Regions from separate parts of the Homo sapiens genome. Here region 2 is linked to region 1. The links come from fine-mapping of genetic effects on gene expression. A gene starts in region 1. The other region holds a variant in brackets. All regions are shown on one strand. Distances are between the middles of the regions.

The links. PIP is the estimated chance that this variant, and not a neighbour inherited with it, causes the effect.
Region 2: its variant is fine-mapped to the expression of ZDHHC2 in esophagus mucosa (GTEx, PIP above 0.99). The same link has a PIP of 0.9 or more in sun-exposed skin.

The regions. Positions count from the first base shown.
Region 1 is chr8:17,150,700-17,161,420 of GRCh38, forward strand. ZDHHC2 (zDHHC palmitoyltransferase 2) reads left to right here and starts at 5,783. Exons shown (of 13, transcript NM_016353.5): 1 at 5,783-6,154. The coding sequence starts at 6,025. It also overlaps the pseudogene RPL9P20. RefSeq lists a silencer at 5,242-6,601.
Region 2 is chr8:17,179,390-17,190,110 of GRCh38, forward strand. ZDHHC2 (zDHHC palmitoyltransferase 2) reads left to right here. Exons shown (of 13, transcript NM_016353.5): 2 at 5,400-5,426; 3 at 6,942-7,036. Among named protein-coding and RNA genes, the nearest start is that of ZDHHC2, 28 kb to the left of the region's middle. The variant CCT/C (reference allele first, on the strand shown) is at 4,798.

The DNA.
Region 1 (10,721 bases):
CCCACCATTTTTTGTCAGTGCCGGAGCCTCATTTTTTTTCTTTCCAAGGAGACTGAGGTCTACATTGATGTGATTGAAGTCCATCCACAGGGTTCCTCTAGGGCCTTTCGCAATTACTGGGTATCCCTTCAAAGTGATATCTACATTTTCTGGAATATGGACAGTCTGGTTGCAGAGAATGGTTTTCATTCTCACAGTAGACACAGCGAAAAGGTGGTTCTTTACTCTTTGGATTCCTCTTCAAAGGAAGAAATTTCCTAGTACCAAAACGTAAAATTGTTTTCAACTTCCTGTTACCTCTAATTTTTGTTTCTATAAAACAGTGAAGGGATTATTACATAGGGGACTTTTTTGTTTCTTACATTTACAAGAATAAAGCCTTTTGAATATTCAGACAAGACAAAATGTCTAAACAGTTCTGTCCAACAGAACTTTCTTCAATGATGGAATGTTCTAGATCTGCAGCATCCAATGCAGTAGCCACTAGCCACATGTGGCTATTGAGCATTTGAAATGTGACTATTGCAACTAAGAATTTCCAATTTCATTTCATGTTAATTTTAACAAATTTGAATAGTGGCAACAAATGTTACTAGTGGGTACTTATTGAACAATGCAGGTCAAGAGAGTGTGATTTGAATGGCACCAAGTAAGCTTCTTCACCCCCAAATTCCTGTATCCCTATTTCTCAAGGTGCCTTGGTCTCCATGAGCTGAAACTAACTCTTTAAGCAATGAGATGCAGAATGAAATTAAAACTACGTGCCATTCAGAGTTCTTGGTTGTAAACACAAGTCAACTCTAGTTGACTTACATAAAAAATGTTATGCAGTTATATAGGCACTCCTCCAAAATCAAAAGGAAGCCTGGAGAATCAAGCTTGAGCTGGAACAAAGGAAGCTGGTGCATGGCCAAGATCTTGCCACCAAGAACAGTCAACCTAGGATGCCATTGCTGCTCTTAATATCCCTGGACACTTGCCACTACACTGCAGAATTCTGCTGCCCTTGGTCACTCTCTGCTGGCTGTTCAGCTCTCAACTCCACAACGGCCACTTCTAATAATCTCCAGTTGAACTTCGGACATTGTATCACCCCTTAGAGATCCATAGTATAGCTGTGTCAGTCCACTGGAAGGACATGTCTGCTCACCTTTTGGGTTCATAGACAGTGCCCCTCCCCATTTAGGGGCAAAGAAGGGAAACAGTGTAAGCAAAAATATTATTTCAATGAAAATTTCCTATTTTATTTCCAAAGAGATTGACCTTAGTGCGAATTCTAAAGAAGTGCACGCAGAATCAGAACGATTTACTATATAGAAAAATGCTTTAAGTCTTTTAAATTTTTTGAATAGGGTTGTCGTTTTTATTAATCGTTAGCCATTAAATTATAATATAAAAACTGTATAATTATAACATAACTTTTTGTTTTGAGAAGGAGTTTTGCTCTTGTTGCCCAGGCTGGAGTGCATTGGCGTGATCTTGGCTCACTGCAGCCTCCACCTCCCAGGTTCAAGCAGTTCTCCTGCCTCAGCCTTCCAAGTAGCTGAGATTACAGGCACCCGCCACCACGCCCAGCTAATTTTTTGTATTTTTAGTAGAGATGGGGTTTCGCCATGTTGGCCAGGCAGCTCTCAAACTCCTGACCTCAGGTGATCTGCCCGCCTTGGCCTCCCAAAGTGCTGGGATTACAGGCGTAAGCCACCGCGCCTGGCCAATTATAACATAATTATAATTAGTTACAATGATATATAATTGTTCATGAAGTTATAATTCATATTTATAATTGCCTTGCTTAAGCTAACAGTTGATAACTATTGAAATCTATGGAGAAAAGGTGAAGACTGCTGCACTGCTTGGTGTGTGCCTGCCATCTAGTGGCAGGACACATTAATGCTACCGTGAAAGCCCTAGTGTGCCTGAAAGGCAGGTTTGCCAGGGACAGTTTGCTCCACTTTACATTGTCCCAGTGTTTCGACCCAATCAACTGTATACAGAGACATCCTTAGGCTTTTGAAATTATCTCCCATTTTATTCAATATAATTACAGCTGAATTGCAAACATAAATCTCTGACAGCCAAAACATATCTAAGCATTACTTCATTCCTACATTCCCTAAGCGCGATTCCTTTTCTTTTATTTTATGTATCTCCAGAAACAAAAAGTGGTTTAGGCATGCTATTCTTCTCCCACAGAGAATGTTTTGACCGCTATTATAAACATGCACATTGACACTGGAGTCACTGATGTCATGGACTGCTGCCTTCTAAAGAGCTCTTCTCCCCCAAAAGAGTGATAAGATTAAGTTTGAGAAAATAATGAAAGAGAATCTATCAGTATTCATGCAGACCACTCTAGTAAGGATGGGAGAGCCATTAGTAAATAAGATATAGATCCAGACCTCAGCTTCATTGCTTCCAATCCTTGTAAGATTTAGAACTCCTTGTATTTGTGAAGTATCATACCCTCTTAGCAAACTCAAGACAATCAACGTCTCATATACATGAGACTAATACGACTGACCTCATATCTTGTTGCAATGTTGCCCTCTAAGAACCCTTCCAAAAGGAAGGAGTAAATATCAAGCAAGTGTCCTAATAGTTTCTGGTAGGTGTTTTGGCTGAAAAGCTTGAGATGAGGTTGGCATAGGCAACATTAAGGGGGATCTGTGTTCTCTAGCAGCAGGTGCGTCCACGCCTTCCTGGGTTTGGCTAGCATGCTATGTTTGATTCATACTATGCAAGGGACTATGTTAAAATGGTAATCTGGATCTGCAGGCAGAAGGAAGATTAGCAGTATTAATCATGAAAGTACGGCAGACTTGAGGTTTGGGAACTCAAGAATTTGGGGGACTGGGCTGGAGGGAGAGGAGGAACGTTTAAGGTTCCTGGGCTGGGCACGGTGGCTCACACCTGTAATTCCAACACTTCCGGAGACCGAGGCGGGCGGATCACCAGGTCAGGAGTTTGAGACCAGTTCGGCCAACATACTGAAACCCTGTCTCTACTACAAATACAAAAAATTGGCCGGGCACGGTGGCGGGCACCTGTAATCCCAGCTACTCGGGAAGCTGAGGCAGGAGAATCGCTTGAACCCGGGAGGCGGAGGTTGCAGTGAGCCGAGATGGCGGCATTGCACTCCAGCCCAGGCAACAGTGCGAAATTCTGTCCGCCCCCCCCCCCCAAAAAAAGAGAGATTCCTTCATGGGGCAGGAACTGAAAATAAGAGTTGTGAAAATTTGAGAGGTGAATGATGTTGCTAGACCGCTGAGTGCAAGGAGCATACAGGCAGAGGCCTAGCGAGGATGGAGTCATGGTCATTAGGGACTGGATGAACCCAGCAAGGGGGCTTTTCTCCCGTTCTCAGTCACTCCCCTCACCCCCCTCCTTGCCTGGCTGTCCGCTCGTCTCTTCTCTTCCTTAGCGTCGCCTTCTTCCTCCTTTGCTGTGGCTGGCTTTCTTTTTCATAAGTGGTCATATCAGTTTAATCACAGTTATACATGAAACCTACAATTTCTTATGCTTATTGAACATTTAAATTAAAATTCGTGAGTTGAATCTTCTGTATTTCTAAACAGTAAGTCTCTAGTGAAGTTTCTTCTTGTCTATGACCTTCAAATTATTTTTTCTGTTTATGTAGTCCTAAAGAAAAAGAAAATAAATCAAAGGCTCTCTATACCTCAAAATAAAAGCTCTCCTTCCACTCTCATCAAAGACTAGTATCTAGAGATTGGCTACTCACCAAAGAGCTTACATTTGTGCGTGCTGCTTATGCCTAATTAGAGACTACGCAGAGATCAATCCTGTTATCTTGTGGCTGTGGAGATGCTTCTTCCTAATCCAGACTTTTTCTGTATTTAAGATAAGAGAACTTGAAAAACCCAGTAATAGTAGTATCCTTAAAATGGCAATAACAAAAAAAAGTTGAAAATATTTCACAAATATTTATTATAAATAGGAACAATTAAACAACATCTTAGATGAGTAATAAAAATGTAGCTCCTTCAAAGATATGACACCTGCATACTTTTCCAAAAGGGTAGATGATGTGAAAACTGGGCAGAATGCTATTCCATTTCCGATTTCAAGACCCTGTAGGACTGTGAGAGGAGGAAGAGCACAGGGCATCGTCGCATCCAGGATCTACAGAGGCACTATTTGCACTTTCTCCACCGTTTCCAGTATGGAAAATCCGATTCCTTCCTTTTCATACCTTGATGGTCTCTATTGACCTTCAGTCACTGATTTGCTTCTCTTTGTGAGGGTATTTCAGTCCCAGGAGGAAGTTTTAATTCCTGTTTTTTACTCTCTTCTGATTGGGGGGGAACACAGGATTAATATTCATGGAAAACATTAAGGAATCCAGAGAAGTTTTATTTTTACATTAATATACAGAATATCCACAGAGAATATAAAAGGCTACAGCAAAATCAAGTGATTCACTGGGACATAATATGTCTCTCTTTTCAATTATTTAAAGTCCCACAGAAACTTGACTGACATTTTCTATGCATTTTTGAAGAGAAATGGAAAGAGATGTGGGGTGGGGGGCTGTAACATAGTAGCTATTTCGGGAGAGATTAGCTTGTTGTGTAATCCAGTCACAGAAAGATAATCGCAGACACCAGAGCTAAATTTCTTTGACTGAATTCATGTAAATCAGTATTTTTTTTTTACTTCTACACATGAATAAGAAGTAATTTCATTCACTGTGGTTGCTGTGTGGTGTAAATACACATATTCACTAATGTTAAGAAAAATTGTGCCTATTATGTATAGTAGTGATGCACATAATTTACACACACTCATTGATTGAAATGTTTCCCTGTGGATCAGGTGCGTTCATAATCAGATGAAGGAAAAGCAAAGGAGGCATTTGTTTATTTTCCATTTCGTGAATCATAAAATCAGAGGTTTGGGCTGACTACCTTTAGGTTCCCTTACGGTGTTTTTTGGGAACCGCTTTGGAGTCAGCTATCTGCTAAGTTTGGAATTGCCACCACGAAAGTAAACACCGTAGTGAGGAGCGGGTTGAGGAAAAGAATAAATAGTTGGTGGAAGGAACCACCGTACTTGAGGGAGGGGACAGTGGGAACGGCCCCTGTCACAATCATTTATCCAAAGCATCAACATTCTCAGAGCAAAGAACTTGTGTTTCTAACTCCAGAGGTGCCTGGATTCACAGCCAAAAATGCTTCTTCCTCGCTCTCCACAGCCCCTCCCATGCCAGACGCCGGCTCGGCACCCCCTCTTCGCTGTGCATTTCTGCTTCCCCCGAAAGCCCGAGTAGTAAAGGGAGGCTCCTTGCGGCCCCCGCGGGCTCCCAGGGACCCGCAAGTTGAAGCGCGAGGGTTCCACGCGGGCTGCGGGGACGCGGGCCTCGGTGCTGCAGACTTTCTCAGGGCGCCTGGGTCGCGGCAGGCGCGGAGTCCCGAGCGCAGCAGCTGCTCCGCCGGCCTCGCCTCCGACCCCCGCCCTGCGCCAAGCGCGGAAGCGCTCGCGACCTAACTGCCCCGGGTGCCGGGCGCCTAGGGAGGGGCCGCCACCGCCCGCTCCGCCCCGGGGGCCTGCGCCCAGCAGCCCCCGCCTCCCCGGAATCCAGAGGCCGAGCCGGAGGCGGCGGGGCCACGGTGGGAGCCCGCGAGGTGGCCCGAGCGAGGGCCCCGCATCCCCGCAGAGCCCGCCCGAGGGCGCAGCCTGCCACGCCAGGGGAGGCGGCCGGGCGGCGGGGAACGGCGGGGGCGGAGCGCAGCCTCCCGACGCCGCCGCCTCACCGCCCCCCTCCGCCTCCTCGGCCTCCGCTCGCAGCCGCCGCCTCCGCCTCCGCCGGGCTGAGGAGCCGGGAGTCCGCCGCGCCGGCTCGGGGCTGCGGGATGGGGAGTTAGCGCCACGGCGGCGGCAGTGGCCGCAGCGCACCCCGCCGCCGCCCAGGAGCCCGTCCAGCCAGGGGTGCCGGGCCCGCCCAGCCCGCCCCGGAGCCAGGCCCGCGGGCGGCGGCGGAGCTGGGCAGGTGGATGCGGCTGGAAGATGGCGCCCTCGGGCCCGGGCAGCAGCGCCAGGCGGCGGTGCCGGCGGGTGCTGTACTGGATCCCGGTGGTGTTCATCACCCTCCTGCTCGGCTGGTCCTACTACGCCTACGCCATCCAGCTGTGCATAGGTGAGTGCGCCCCCCGCCGCGGCGCCCCCAGCGCAGCGCAGCCCACCCCGACTGTCCCGGGACGCTCAGCCGCTCCTCCGCTCTCGCCCCCCGGATGCGCCCCGGGCGCTGCCAACCTGCCGCGTCCCGCCGGCTCCGCCGCTAAAAGCAGCCTCGGGGCAGCTTCTTCCACGCGCACGCCCCTCGCCCTCCCCTCCCAACTCTCGGGTTAAGGTGGCGCCTCCGCCCCGCACTCGCCGCCGAGCCTCCCGCCGCCTTCCGCTCACCGCCGCCGCCTCGGCCACACCCCCTAGAGGGGCGGAAGGTCCCCGGGACCGCTGTGGAGAGGGGAGGCCGAGGCCGGCGAGGCGCGCCGGGGGCTGAAGGGCTGAGCTGGGCCCGGCCCCGAGCTGCGCCAGACCCGCGCGGGGGTGCTGGCCTTGGCGGCGGAGCTGGATCCCTTGCTGGTTGGCGTCAATGCACTTGTTAAAAATTTGTGACAGCGCTCAGGGGCGTTTTTGCTGCCTTTATGATTTGAGGATTGCCAGTTGGACACTTTTCTAGTTTAAAAGGATGTGGAGGAGGTGAGCTACTAGAAAGTATTTTTGAGGACATGTGCAACACACTAAACCATAATTTAGGTGTTTGAACAGTAGGGAGAGAAAAAAAGAGGTGATCGTCTGAGGTTTTTACATCCAGAGAGCGAAGTGGCTCCAGTCCGAGTTCGAGGTTCCTGAATTGGTGGGTAGGATACTTTTAATGCTGAAGATTAAAATTTTTTAAAAAGTTGATTATTATGCACAAGTAGGGAGTACAATGATGTCGCTTAATGTAAGCTGGTTTCTACCTTCAGGGGTTTTATGAAAACTGATCTGGGTTATCAGAAAAAGATGTTAAAACAGAAAATGACCTTTCTGCCAGTGACTTGTGAATGCTTTCTGTGTTTGGTGCTCCACCTAACAAAGTGTCTGTTTTTGCCCTACCAAGTGCTAGCTTTGGGTGGGACGAGGGAAAAGATGAAATAGTGGCCTATTATATTGAGCCTTCACAAGCTCAGCATTTTCAAAGCCTCAAGATTCAGACATAAAATCTTGTCTGAAGCCATCTTACCTCAAAATGTTGCGCCTTGTGAGAAAGTGTCATAATAATACATCAAAATAATCACTGATGTAAGTTGTAAGAGAACCGAGACTTTTATTTCATATAGTTTTAAAATTTGCTGTTATTACTTGAAGGGATTTAGAAACAAGCTTAATAGTCCAAAAAAAAAACCTTGAGTCTGTTGTTGGGAAAAGATGAGGCTGTACAGGCATTATCATGAGGATGCATTTAGGTATGCAGTCGTCAAGTCATCTAAAATATATAGGAAAGGACGTGTAGTAAATTTTGTATTAACTGTTAATCTTAAAATAGCTTGCCTTATTGAGATAGACTGTATATGTTACGTAACTGTTGGGAACCTTTGTTGTGTTTCATTCCTTCGTCCTCTTAAAAACAGTGACCAGTATCGATTAATATAACCTGCAAAGAAGGGACATCCTAGAAGGCCTTCATTATCAAAATAGCCTATTCTCCTGTATTATCACATTAAGCTAAGACGCTTATCTTGGTACAGTGTCTCCTGTCCATTAAGAGGAAGCATTTGAAGGCAGAGAGAGCTCTTCTGCCCGTTAGAAGGATGTCTGCTCCTAGCTGAGGTGCTATATGGCAGATCTTATTATTGTATTGGGTAGACAGGTGATGGGGAAGGAACTAAATGGAAAATTGGTATTATATCTGAATCGTATGTTTATATGTACTTTCTGTAAGTTTAAGACAAATCTAGAGTATCCATAAAATCCGCATCAGTATTTTAGTAAGTGACGATTTGACTAAGAGGAAGAATGCCTCTTTTTAAACTGCCTAAGTGGCGTGGCCTGTTATTGATACCTTATCTATCACTTCTTGTCCCTGCCTGCCTGGCGCAATGCCTGTCTGCCTGGCGTAATGCCTGTCTGCCTGGCCTGGCGCAATGCCTGCCACATTGAAAACAACAGTAAGTGGTCTTGAATAAACAAATAAATGATTCAGAGGCACTATCTCCTAGGTTTTCAGAAAGTAGCTTTTATATTTTTATTGCTGTAGAAACAAAAAGTAATTGTTATGAAAGATCTAGATTCTAGAGTCTAAGAAGGAAGAACAAGTTGAAGCTGAATTTGATTCTAGAGACCATGGCAGTTTATGAGTGGCAAGCTTTGCATAGCCTTGGTCGAGTGGGAAGTTGAAATTTCCTTATAGGCACTGGGAAAGATGGCGACTAGTGTGACTGACACACAAAACCAGACTCCCAGACTCCTTTCCTTTTCACAGACAAAGCAAATGGAAATACCAGCCCCCACCCTACCCCCAGTATTAATCACATCTCAGACTGCCCTGCCCTTTGAAGATTCTTTTTCTCTTGGAAGTTGCCATTTACAAGCAGATTTTCCAAATTTCTTCCATAAAACATTGGCCAAGGTTGGGACCAGAGTGTGGGGGTCGAGGGCTGGGAACTGGATCAGGTAGCAAATGGAATAGAAGAAACAAGGTGATTTACCCTGGTCCTCCTTCCACATCTGCTCTCAGCTAGGGATGACCCTGAATATAAATTATTCTGTGCCCTTTGCTGAATGAACTGCAATTTAGGAGTAGTGCTTATCCTGGTATCCTTGGAAACTGGAGATAATGATTCTCATTACAGTTAGTTTCTATATTTAACAACGTGGATGTATGTGGCTCTCTAGGCACTTTTTCAGTTAGCATAATTTTTGCTTAGTGTTTGTATTTTATAAAAATAACCTCTCTTTTTGGAATATGTGTATATGTAAAATATATGGGATGTACATATATTGTGTGAGAGTCAAGTATTTTTGGTTAAGTCAGCTTCCTATTCTGCCAAAGAAAAGATCACAAAAGACAGTTATACTTCTAATCATTTGGACCACGTTTATCTCGTTTGTTGATTAACGAGGCTCTTCTATTTGTATTCCTCCCCCTCCATCCTTTCCTTCTCTTACCACTCCTTTTCCCTCTCCCCTGTCCCTCCTGTCCCTCTCTCCACTCCTGGCTTCTTTTGTGTTTTAACTCTCTTTGCTCTCTTTAGATATTAGGTTGGTTTCCGTCAAGTAAGATAAACTCAAAGGTAACATTTGTACGGGGAACTTTAGGATGCACTATGAGAGGGAATGAGGGAGGTCTGCAGCCTCAGGCATGCTCCATTCAGCGAGCACACGACGTGGTTTATGTTTTACAGATCCCTTATGGCTGCTGCTGTGTTAACTTCGCTTGTTGAAGAAGGTTCACTGAAGTTTCCCCTTTTAAGTGCTAACATTTAAATTGTTTTAACTATTTCATACCGTTTTCTTTATTTCAGATTTACTGAAAAGTTTCAATAGTACAAGAAACTTCCACATACACTTGTGTAACCAGTTCAGTTCCCATTTTTCTTAAATATATTACTTTCCTGCTCCTTAGGCAGGTGCTATGGGACGTTTATGATGATGTTGCGCAGTCATGTAGTTCTGAATTTGCTTACGGTTTTAGTTACGTCATTTTAAACGATCATGAATTTTCAAAAGCTTAAAGGTCATCCAGGCTAACCCCTTCTGTATTTTTAAACGAAAGAGTTAAACTAAATTCCAGAGTTGCCACAAGTTCAATGTCCTTCCTCCGAGTTACCTAGCGGAGGTGTCAGCTATGACCTTAGCTGCTGTAATGCAGATGTCCAGATGTCTCCTTTTCCCAGCAAACCCCTCTCCAAATATCTTAGCCCATTGAAGTTATGCAGCAACTCTTTTTAACTTTATTATCGTTTACAGAGAGTTGACAGAGCTCTGAAAATAAGCCAACAGTCTTTACACAATTTTAGAGATTTAAAGGGCTTTGTAGTTTGGGGCTATATAGTACATATTTTTGGCTTTGCAAGCCGTGTGATCTCTGTTCCAACCACTCAACTCTGCTATCTTAGAGAGCGGCCATAGAAGATACTTTAACAAATGGGCGTGGCTTTTATTCAACAAAAATATTTGGCCAATCTTGGCCCTTGGGCAAAAGTTTGCTGAGCTTTGGAGTATGTGGGAAGCTAGACCACTAGAATCTTGAGGTTTTACTCGCAGTTTTGCTGTCTTTATTACTAAACATCCTTCAGCAGTGATTGCAGCCTGTTATATTCCACAGTGATTATAATACTTAGGGATCAGTTTGAGAGATACGCTGCCATGTTTTCATTCTTTTAAACAAACAAGAAAACAAACATCCCTAAGAACAAAATACACAAAGCCTCCTACTTGGATTCTGTGAAGTTATGACCTACCATTCATTGAAGGCCACTGCAGGCTCAAGGATAGAGACTGCTGGGGCTGTCAGTTGTTTTCCACCATGAAATGAATTTGAGCTACACAGAAGAAGAAATGTTTTCTTGTTATTGATTTTAAACTGTTGCTTTATATTATTAATATCTTGATATTCCTGATACTTAAACTATTACTTTAAAAACTGTGTAGGACAATAAAGCATTTTTCACAAAAAAAGAACAGGCAGTAGATCTTGGGAATACAGATGTTCTATTAAG
Region 2 (10,721 bases), 29 kb after region 1:
TTTTTGTTTTCTTTATTTCTTCTTCTTTTTGTTTTAAGAAACAGGGTCTCACTCTATCGCACAGGCTGGAGTACAGTGATGTGATCATAGCTTAGTGCAGCCTTGAACTACTGGGCTCAATCAGTTCTCCTGCCCCCAGTCTCCCAAGTAGCTGGGACCACAGGCAGTGCCACCACACCCAGCTAAAAAAAAAAGTTTATTTGTAGAGACACAGTCTCAATGTGTTGTCCAGGCTGATCTCCAACTCTTGGCCTTAAGTGATCCTCCCACTTTGGCCTCCCGAAGTGCTGGCATTTCATGCGTGGGCCGCCCAGCCCAAAATGTGATTCCTGAAGGCCATAATTTTACTTTTGGCAAACAGGAACATTCTTGGTAACTATAGTAGTAATTTACCTTTTTCACTTTCTCTCTTCCTATATACCGTCAGGGCCAAGAAAGTGCTGCAGTTCCCACAATTAATCACAGAGGAACTTGAAGTTCTGGAGGTATATTGGAAGATTAGAAATTGCTAAAGCAAAATATTATCATTGTAGGGCATGGACCAAAAAGAAATTAGGCTAATCCAAGATAAAATGAGGCAAATAAGTGTTTGAAATTAAAATTAAAATTGTGATTCACAGTGTTCCTATTGTGTGTATTTAGATGGTATGAATGGTGCCATCCACCAGATGTAGGATTGGTAAATATTTTAGTGTAATAATAGCAATGCTTTTAATTCCCAGGAATAAACTGCACCTAACTTCTTTGGGGTGATTATAAGATTTAGGTCTTTATTTTTTTTTAAAGTAATTGTTTTTATTCATTAAGTTAAACAGTGCCTATCCAAAATAGATTCTTTCACATTTAAGTTCTCAAAAGGACTAACTGGCACATCAAGATCGAAGTTTTAACATCTCATCATTACTCTGTGTTAAGAATGAAGACCACTTTTTTGGTTTAAACAAGTTTCTGAAATGACACATCCGTTTAAAAAGGCAATTGACTTATAAGATAATTCAGATTTACATTATTTTTCACCTTTTATTTTCACTCGCCAAGTCTATTTTTGTTCAACATTTTGCATTTATTTCTTTCAGGAGCCTGTACAAATATTACTTTTCTCTTTGTAATTTGTCTTCCTTGTTTAGCCCCCTTTCCTATACGTTATACATTACAGTTAATATTATCAAGATGAAAGATGATATATTATAATTGTACATTCATGGGGCTTACTCTACACAAGGCACTGTGTTAAGTACATTGTTTTATTGTCCCTTTGAATTCTCGCTACAGCCCTAATGCTACTGCTGCAGCAATCACCCTCATTTTGTAGTGGAATAAGTGGGATAGCTTATGTAAGCCAGCAAGTGGCAGAGGCAGGATTGGACCTTGCCTTCTTTATCCCCAGCCATTGCTCTTTGGTGCTATTATGCTTAGTAATAATCTCTTTTCCATTTTGACAAATTCAACTATAAAAAAGTACAATACTAAGGAAGAACCAAAACCAAGCTGGGGGTGGAGGGAACCCTGTGAACTTATAGACCCTGTCTGTCTTCAAAGTTGCTTGAAGCCCAGTTGAAGCCAGTATCTCCCTCAGCTTTTTCCTTTTTAAAGGAACAGGAACCATTTTGTCTTCTCCCTCTCTCCTCTCTTTAGAGAAGTGTTTTCTTCACCTCACAGAAGAGATTACTTTCGCTTTTTTCAACTATCAGTTGAGTGCTATGGTGTGCTAAGCTAACATGGTAATAGAAATAACTTTTCTCTTGAGTTTTTCATGCCCACAAAAGAAAAATGAATACTTCTCATATGTCCGCTTTGATATACCAGTTTTATGTGATTCAAATTAGTTGTCATGGTCTGTTTGTCTAAGTCAGTCTCTTACTCAGTAAACATTAATGGGGCAGATGCTCTATGCCAGTTCTTGTGCTTTAATGAGGAATTAATTTTAATATGATCCAGCAGAGCTGGAAGTTGTAACGTTTTTGTTACAGGCAGGAAATGTTTAAATTGAAAATAAAAGAATTTCTAAGGTAGAATTAATGTGCTATTCGTCGTGACTTTGAGAATAAAGCTCATTTGCTTTAGTAAAAACTGAGTAAACCTCAGTTTTCTGTTGACAAAAATTGAAATAACTATTAATTTATCTCAATAACTGGTTTAAAGGAAATGAGATAAAGAAGGCTATACAACACTTGAAATTTCTCTATGGTAAAAATTGAAGAATAGGTATCAGCATCATTGTTAAATCAAACAAATTGAAATTCTGTCTGTGAAGTAAGAAAATTAAATAATCCTGGATTAAAACTCAAAATCCACATTAAAACCAATAGTTATTTTTAGAAGACCTGTCCCAATTATGTTCAGTATTGCTATTTAGTTTTTGTATTGTTATAAATAATCAAATTATATTTGATTACCATCTATATTGTTTCAAAAATGAGTCTCTATTTTTCATATGTTATCTTTATATACATAAATATTAGAAAAGTGTTTGAGGCTAAATTTGAGCAATCTTTTCTTGAACAGTTACTTTTGAACAAAAATATTTGCATTTGACAATAACTTTGTATTTTATGTGTTTTTACTCTGTGAGAAAGGAAACTTTGAACTTGACAACTCTGCCATTAAACTGAAAATTACAAGGTAAATCACTGATTTACTAATTAAGTAACCATGGTTGAAAGAACATTCATTTCCTGAGTATCACAAAGCAAAACCTTGCATAGTCCATATATCTGTTAATGAAATAAGTTAATTTGCAAACTTTGATAATGTTACTTAATCAGTGGCAAGTGATAAAAATGTTGCTAGTACTTATTAAATCATTTAAAATAGCTATATGCAGTTTTATTTGCAATATATATATAACAGATATGAGATTTCTGTCCAGAATATATAAAAGGCTCTCAGTAACTAAGTAGGCCAATAGGAAAATAATCATTCACATAGAAGAGAAAGGAAATCCCAATCATAGTGTTTTAAAAATAATGCCAAACTGCACTAATAATAAGGGAAATGAATGCTAAAATAATGATTTTTATTTAGGCCTATGATGTCGACAAAAATTAAACAGAGTTACGTTTACAGGAAATTGAACCGGCTCATAATCTTGGCGAAAGTGTAATTGGATACAGCCTTTTGAACTGATCCCTTTCATTCTACAAATGTTACACAATTATTTACTATAAAGATGAATTTATGTGTAAGTTGTGTACTTTTAAAAAAATAGAACATCTGTGGATTTTGAATTACATTTAGGGAAAAGCAAACTGTGAATGGCAATAATAATAATAATAATAATAGCTTTAAAAACAAAGTCTTTGAATGCATATCAGGCTTATAGAGTAGTGGTCCAGGTCAAAAAGATTAGCAACTCGTACCAACTACACCTTTTTTTTTGTTGTTGTTTTTGAGACAGAGTCTCACTCTGTTGCCCAGGCTGGAGCGCAGTGGCGTGATGTTGGCTCACTGCAACCTCTGCCTCCCGGGTTCAAGCGATTCTCCTGCCTCAGCCTCCAAGTAGCTGGGATTACAGGCGCGTGTCACCACACCTGATTAATTTTCTGTATTTTTAGTAGAGACGGGGTTTTGCCATGTTGGCCAGGCTGGTCTTGAACTCTTGACCTCAGGTGATCCACCCACCTTGGCCTCCCAAAATGTTGGGATTACAGGTGTGAGCCACCGTGCCCAGCCCCTAACTATACCTTTTTCAAAAATGTCACTTTGTCTTAGTTTTCAGTTCTCTCCACTCGAGTCAGTGGAGTAGCAAACACATTTGTATGCAAGCACCAGCACCTCTGGAATGGTCAGTAAGGGTCATTCATATATAAATGCACAAATGGAGTCAAATTGCTTTTCCTTTCCTTAGATTGGCTCCACTGAAGGATTGGAAATTTTGATCCAGAAAAGAGTTGTCAATTTTGGAGCACTTTTGAAGACAGGGTGTAGTCAGTGTCTAGAAAGAAATGCATACCTGTGGCGGTAGGTTCAGATATTAAAAAACAGGCTTGCCTCAAGCCTCTCCTGTGCCCTCAGATGAGCTGCTTCAGGGATTCTATGAGAAAGCAAACTCTGACTAGCCTCTGACTTACAAGCGGACTTGGAGAACAGGCCATTTGTAAATCGAAGGTCATCCAGGCCTGCCTGTCTCATTCTGGAGATCAGAAATGTTAAAAGGAGTGGAGAACCTAGGAAGCATTTACAGATGCCACATCTACGTTAGTAAGAGATCTGGAAACCATATATTAGTTGGTGTAAACTAGAACATTTAAGGGGGACACTATAACATCAAATATGTGAAGATCTGTCATTTAGATCTTCTGTTTGTTGCTATGGTTTGGAAGCCTCAGTATCACAGGTAAAAGTCACAAAGCAGCCAATTTCAACACCCTGGAAGGATGAATTTTCTTATTCTTAGGGCAATCCAACAGTGGAACGGGCTGCCCTCCAAGAAACTACGGGCTTCTGCTAGCTCTAGAAATGCCTGAACTTATATTTGGTAGCTCTCTTGGGCAGGAGATTGGTTGGACTGAGCAATCTTAAAAATTTCTCACACTACCCTCTGGTTCCAGGCTTCAGAAGGCAGCGCATTTCATTCCAGCACCAAGGCCTGAGGTCCCGTGCCCTTTTGAAAAGCTGAATAAGGACAAAAATATACAAAGTCAGACTTGCTACAGCTGAGATAGGGCAAAACTTCCAAAGACTCTAGTACAAAGAGAGAGACCAAATGGGAAAACAAATAGACAATACAAAAGGCGTACATATGTCTTGATTACTAAATACAACTTCTTGCCGCAGCTTGCTTTAGTGCTTGTGGCC[CCT/C]GTCCTCATCTATAATACCTGCTAGCTTGGAATATTTACAACAGCCGCTGAGGAGTGGCAGTTTCCCAGCACTGCCTGGCCTTTCGTTGTGCAACAGGGAGCAAGTAAAGTCACTGTGCATAAGCATTTGTACTTTTAGAAATTAGGGGGAAAAAAAGTGTGTGCTGTGGACACATTTTATTCTTTGTGGAAAGCTCACCAGGTGGTTGCCAGTTTATCAAGAGCAATAAATGCCTGCGGAAATGTAATGACCTGGAGAGCATTGCTTTTATCTGAACTCTATAGTTGGAAGGAAAACCAGTCAACCAAATGATACAGAAATAAGACCCGCAAGGGGCACACTTGACAAGTTTTGTTCCGCAGGACAGGAGCCAGGGCTGAAGTGCGCAATGGAGGCATGGCTGACTGCAGCCTCCAGCCGTTTCCTGCACCCTCTCCACACTGTGCTCACCTCTCCTCCAAATAAAGTTGAATAAATATTTAGAGAATGTTGGTTTGAAGGGAAGCCACATTATTAAGCTACTTAAATGCCTTATGTCTGTGTCAAGCCCCGTTTGCCATAAGCTTCATGTAACCTATTACCTTTTTTTCTCTTTACAGTGTCCATGGAAAACACTGGCGAACAAGGTAAGCTAGATTATATTAATGTTATAGATTTTTTAAATAGTTTGAAAAAAAATTGTATTCACTTAGATTTGGTTGGGATTAATAAATTGTTGTTTGAGAATGTGGAGACAAGCTAGGGTTAAAGATGTCTCATTTCTCTTAAGTTTGCAGATTGAATTCTGTCAGACCCTTGGCAAAGAATTCTATCCTGAAATGGCTGTCATTGTGCCAGAGATTCTTAAGGCTTTGAGGTATAGGGATATCAACAATTTCCTTTCCTAATTCAGATTATGAACTTATAACTGAGTCACCTACATAATTTATGAAAAATATTGTTGGCTTTAGTCATCTCACACCGATTTAAGTGCCTTATTGAATAATTCAAATTTTTAATGATTCTATGAGTATCCTCATTCTTTAGAAAAATTTAAAATTGCTATTAAAGTTTTAAAATGCCAAATATGCTATATTTAAATTAGCATATTTTATTCAATGATATCTTACAGAATTAAATTGTGTATTAATGTATTACCCAGAAGGAAGCATTATCACCATATAGAAAATTAATATTTAAAATTTGGGCCGGGCACAGTGGCTCATGCCTGTAATCTCAGCACCTTGGGAGGCCAAAGCGGGCAGATCATTTGAGGTCAGAAGTTCAAGACCAGCCTGGCCAGCATGGTGAAACCCTGTCTCTACTTAAAAAAAAAAAGAAAAATACTAACATTAGCCAGGTGAGGTGGGGCATGCCTGTAATCCCAGCCACTCAGGAGGCTGAGGTAGGAGGATTGCTTGAGCCCCAGGGGGCGGAGGTGGCAGTGAGCCACTGCACTCCAGCCTGGGCGACAGAGTGAGACCCTGTCTCAAAAAAAAGGAAAGAAAAGAAAAGAAAATTTTGGATAGTATTTCAAGACTTTATAACACCACCCAGAGTGTGTTTATATGCATTACTGAAAAAAGTATTCAGAACACTTTTTTAAAACAATTGTCCCATGTAATAAATAAGACACTTGAACTCCCACTGAAGGAAATCTCTTTGTCCAGATGTTCTCCATTTAAATGTGTTATCATTACACCAGCTTTGACTAGAGCCAAGCAAATAAGCAAACAGCTTCTCAAATAGGAACTGCCTTTGTTATCTGTGTCAGTAAAGCAAAGTTCTTAAAGCCTGAGTGTTTTAACACTTGTTTTTAATGCTGTGTTTGCTGTTTAAATTTGGAGGCGTAACTGCCTCATTTTTACAATTTAGAAAAGGTCCTTGTTAGTGATTTTGCCAATAGATGGTCTGTCTACAGATGGGAGGCTTTTATTCATGGGCATAGATCTCATTATGCATTTAGGAATTTTTGTAAAAAACTCTTGGCTTTGGAAATAAATTCGTTGAGTTGTGTTTATTCTAGTATAAAGTAAAGGAACTTTCATAATGTATTATAATTGGTAATTTGGTTATTTTAAAACAAGCAGATCGGTTGTGACTGTCATAATTTTAGTATGTATTTGCATATTATAATGATAATTATGTTTTTCTCATTTTAGTTGTGTGCCTGATGGCCTATCATCTACTTTTTGCAATGTTTGTCTGGTCATACTGGAAAACTATCTTTACATTACCAATGAATCCTTCAAAAGAAGTAAGTTAAAATATTAACGAAATTATTCTAATAATAGAAATCAATAATACTGATGTATTATTGAAGAACGAATTTTATTTTAATGTTGCAAACTTATTGAGTTTAGTGACTTTTTAGATTAAAAAAATTAGTATTTCTGTTAATAAATACTTGAATTTTCACCTGGAAATATTAGTGTTTTCACCAGATAAGCACTGCATTTTCTGTATTGAATCTGTTATGAATTCCATTTCCACTTTAGAGTCAGACATCAGGATGGATGGATAGGTAGACAAAGATAGATAATAAAATAGAGCTAGAAGGTAGACATAATTCTATGATAATTATCACATTAAAGGTGTATTAGTTGGTTATCAGCCACCAGAAACAACAACAACAAAATAATGGCTTAGCTAATCTTCTCTGCATTCAAAAAGTCTGTAGCTAGTCCACAGCTTCCAGGTGCCCACACTCCTTCTATCTTGTTTCTCTGCCACGTGTAGCCTCCATTTCCAAGGTCCCCTCTTGGTCTAAGGGGGACTCTGCGGTTCCAACCATCACATCTACATTGTAGCCAGCAGACCAAAGAAAGTAGGAAAGAGAAGTAAATGTCCTCCTCTTCAAGAACACTTTCTAGACATTGCTGACGTCATTTCCACTTACATTTAGAAGTTGGTTATATGGCCACATCTACCCACAAGGAAGGGGGGAGTGTAGCCTTTCTTCTCGATGACCATGTTAAACATGAGAGAAGAAGAGAAATATGGTTACTGAGAGACAACTAGCAATCTCTGCTTCAGAGGGCTTTAAGTAGAGTGATGGATCAAATTTGCATGTTGAAAAGATCATTCTGTTTGTTTCTGGATCATGCATCCTGGTTAAACGTTCTTGGAGCAAAGAATTGTGTCTCACTCATTTTTGTATCCTTGGCGTATAGCCCAGTACATTGTTGAATAAAAATATACTTTGCTAACTCTAATAACAGTGTAGTTTTAGTAAGCCAAGTTTAAAAAAAAAAAGCATCACTGTAGACTGTTTACTGAAGTAATCAGTTTGAAATGCAACTTTGGTCAAAAAAGCCAATAAATATGCTATTTGGCTTGGGAGAGGATGGTAAAAACCACAGATGTTTGCGCAGAATTAATGGTATGCCTGGCTTAGAATGCCTATCTATTGCCTGTTTTTCTTCTATTCTCCACTTCTTTTTCTATCCCAGTCTTTTTTTTTCCTTCCTCCTACCATATTTGCTTCTTTTCCATCATCTCTCTTACCCTCATCCTGTCCCTAGTAGTAGGTTTGAAGAAAAATACTGACTTCTATCATAGGTAGTCTCATCCACTCTGGTAGTTTACATACAACCTCTGTTTTGATAACTCCCAAATCTGTTTTGAGTTCTAAACTCCCCCTTAAATTTCAAACTTATGTATCCCCCTGCCAAGCATAGCTTCTTGATAATTCCACCAACATCTCAAATACAAAACATCAAAAACAGACGTCATCACCTTCTCCTTCCCCAGACTGTGAGTCATCTGTTTCTTATGTCAGTTAATGGGCAGTTTATCACTGCTCTAATTCTGGGTCTTCATCATCTCCCTTGTCTGAGATATTGTATTCTTCTCCTGGTAATTTGGTTATTTTAAAACAAGCAGATCATTTGTGAATACCATAATTTTAGTCTGTACTTGCATATTATAATGATAATTATGTTTCTCTCATTTTAGTTGTGTGCCTAATGGCCTATCATCTACTTTTTGCAATGTTTGTCTGGTCATACTGGAAAACCATCTTAAGGTTTTCTGTTTACAGCCTGGCCTACCTTTCCTTCCCAGAACCCCACAAAACTTCATCCAATACCCTGAAGCTGGAGTGGTCCTCCTAAAAACCAATGTAACGCCTTCCCTCTACTGCTTGTATCTATTGTGATTCCATATATCCCACAGGGGAAAGCTCAGTCTCTTCTGCCTAGCAATAGCAGCTCTTGTCTCAATTTCTGACTTTATACTTTATACTCTAGTAGTTCTTAACTACACATAGTTTCCTGTATACAACATGGCATTATTTCCTTTCCAAAATATTCTTACCCCTTTCTCATGGAAATAATATATTTATTTTCCATTCATACTGGCAGCTCCTTCTTGGCCTCCTTTGCTGGTTCCTCTTCAGCTCCTAGACTGCCAAAGCATTGGAATGTTCCAGAGCTTAATCCCTGGACTTCTCTTCTTATATACCTGCATTTATTCCCTCGTGGATTTCATTGAGTTCTGTGACTTTATGTGTCACCCCAGTGCCGCAGCTCTCAGATTAATATATTAGCCTGGTGCTTGCTAATAAACGCCTGACACATTTCCAGCTCCCTATTTGACATCTAATAGAAATTTCAGGTTCAACACAACTGAAAACAAACTTCTGATTTCTCATTTAATTCCCCAGTTCTTCTAGTCCTAAAGTTTTCTTATGTCAGTAATGACAGTTTCACTCTTCTGTTCAGGCCAGAAACATTGGTGTCATCCTTGGCTACTCTTTTTCTCTCGGACGCCACATCTAGTCAATCAGAAAATTCTATACCCTCACCCTCAGAGTATGGCCACAATGTGAACTCATGTGCCGCACTGCTCCCTGCTCCCACCCCGGTCCAAGCCACCATCCTCTCTCATTTATAGATTTGCAGTAGCCTCTTAACAGGTTTCTTTTTGTTGGGTTTTTTTTTTTGGTGTTTTGTTATGTTTTTTTTTTTTTTTTTTTGGCCTCCTCTTGTGTATTTTCAACACAGTAGCCAAAGTGATCCTTTCAAAAGACAAGGCAAATCTCTCACCTTTTTGATGTCTTTATACAAATGGTACCTTATCATTGAGGCTGTCTGTGATGACTCAACATAGAATAGCAACCCCACTACCCTCGGCTTTCCCTGCACCTTACCTTCCTGGATTTTTCTCCATAACATTTACCATCATGGCAACACACTGCATATTTATTTGTTGAATACTTTTGAAAATACACCATCGTTAGAATGTAGGTTCCATAAGGGCGTGAAATGTATCTTTGTTCACTGCTTCATCACCAGTGCCTAAAGCAGTGTCTGACCTATAGAAGGTACTCAAGAGATACTTTTTAAGTGACTAAAAGTAGGGAAGAAGTTATTCATACACATGCAGGTTTATTTTTATGGCCTTGGCAGGAAGTTGAAGTGACTTCTAACTTCTCTCTAAAATTATATATGACATCATTGGCTAACAGTGAAGACCTAAGTGGGTTAATTAAGGGTTGGGAGAGTAGAGAAGGTTTGAAATAGTGGATTGGACAGAGTGGCAAAAGGATATGAAACACACGGAAGAAAGAACACAGCATTGAAGGAGCAGTCAAATCGATGACAGTGACATTATAACGGTATCAGGCTTCATTGTGTGATTTTTCTACAAAAGACGTACCTTAGTCATACAACTGTTTGAGATAGATACTATTTTTTACTATTTTACAGATGGAGCCACTGGCTTTGAACATGAAACAATTAAGGTATCTAGTGCTACTGTGTGGGAGAGCTAAGGTTCAACCAAAAGTCCTTTCAACCCTTAAGGACACTTTCTTTTCACTACACCATGCTCTAGTATGGAGAGCAAGCACAATGGGTGGGAGTGCCCAGGACTTCAATTGAAGCATGGGGGAAAAATAGCAAAAATTTTTTTACGTATTATTCATTTAATATTTTTAT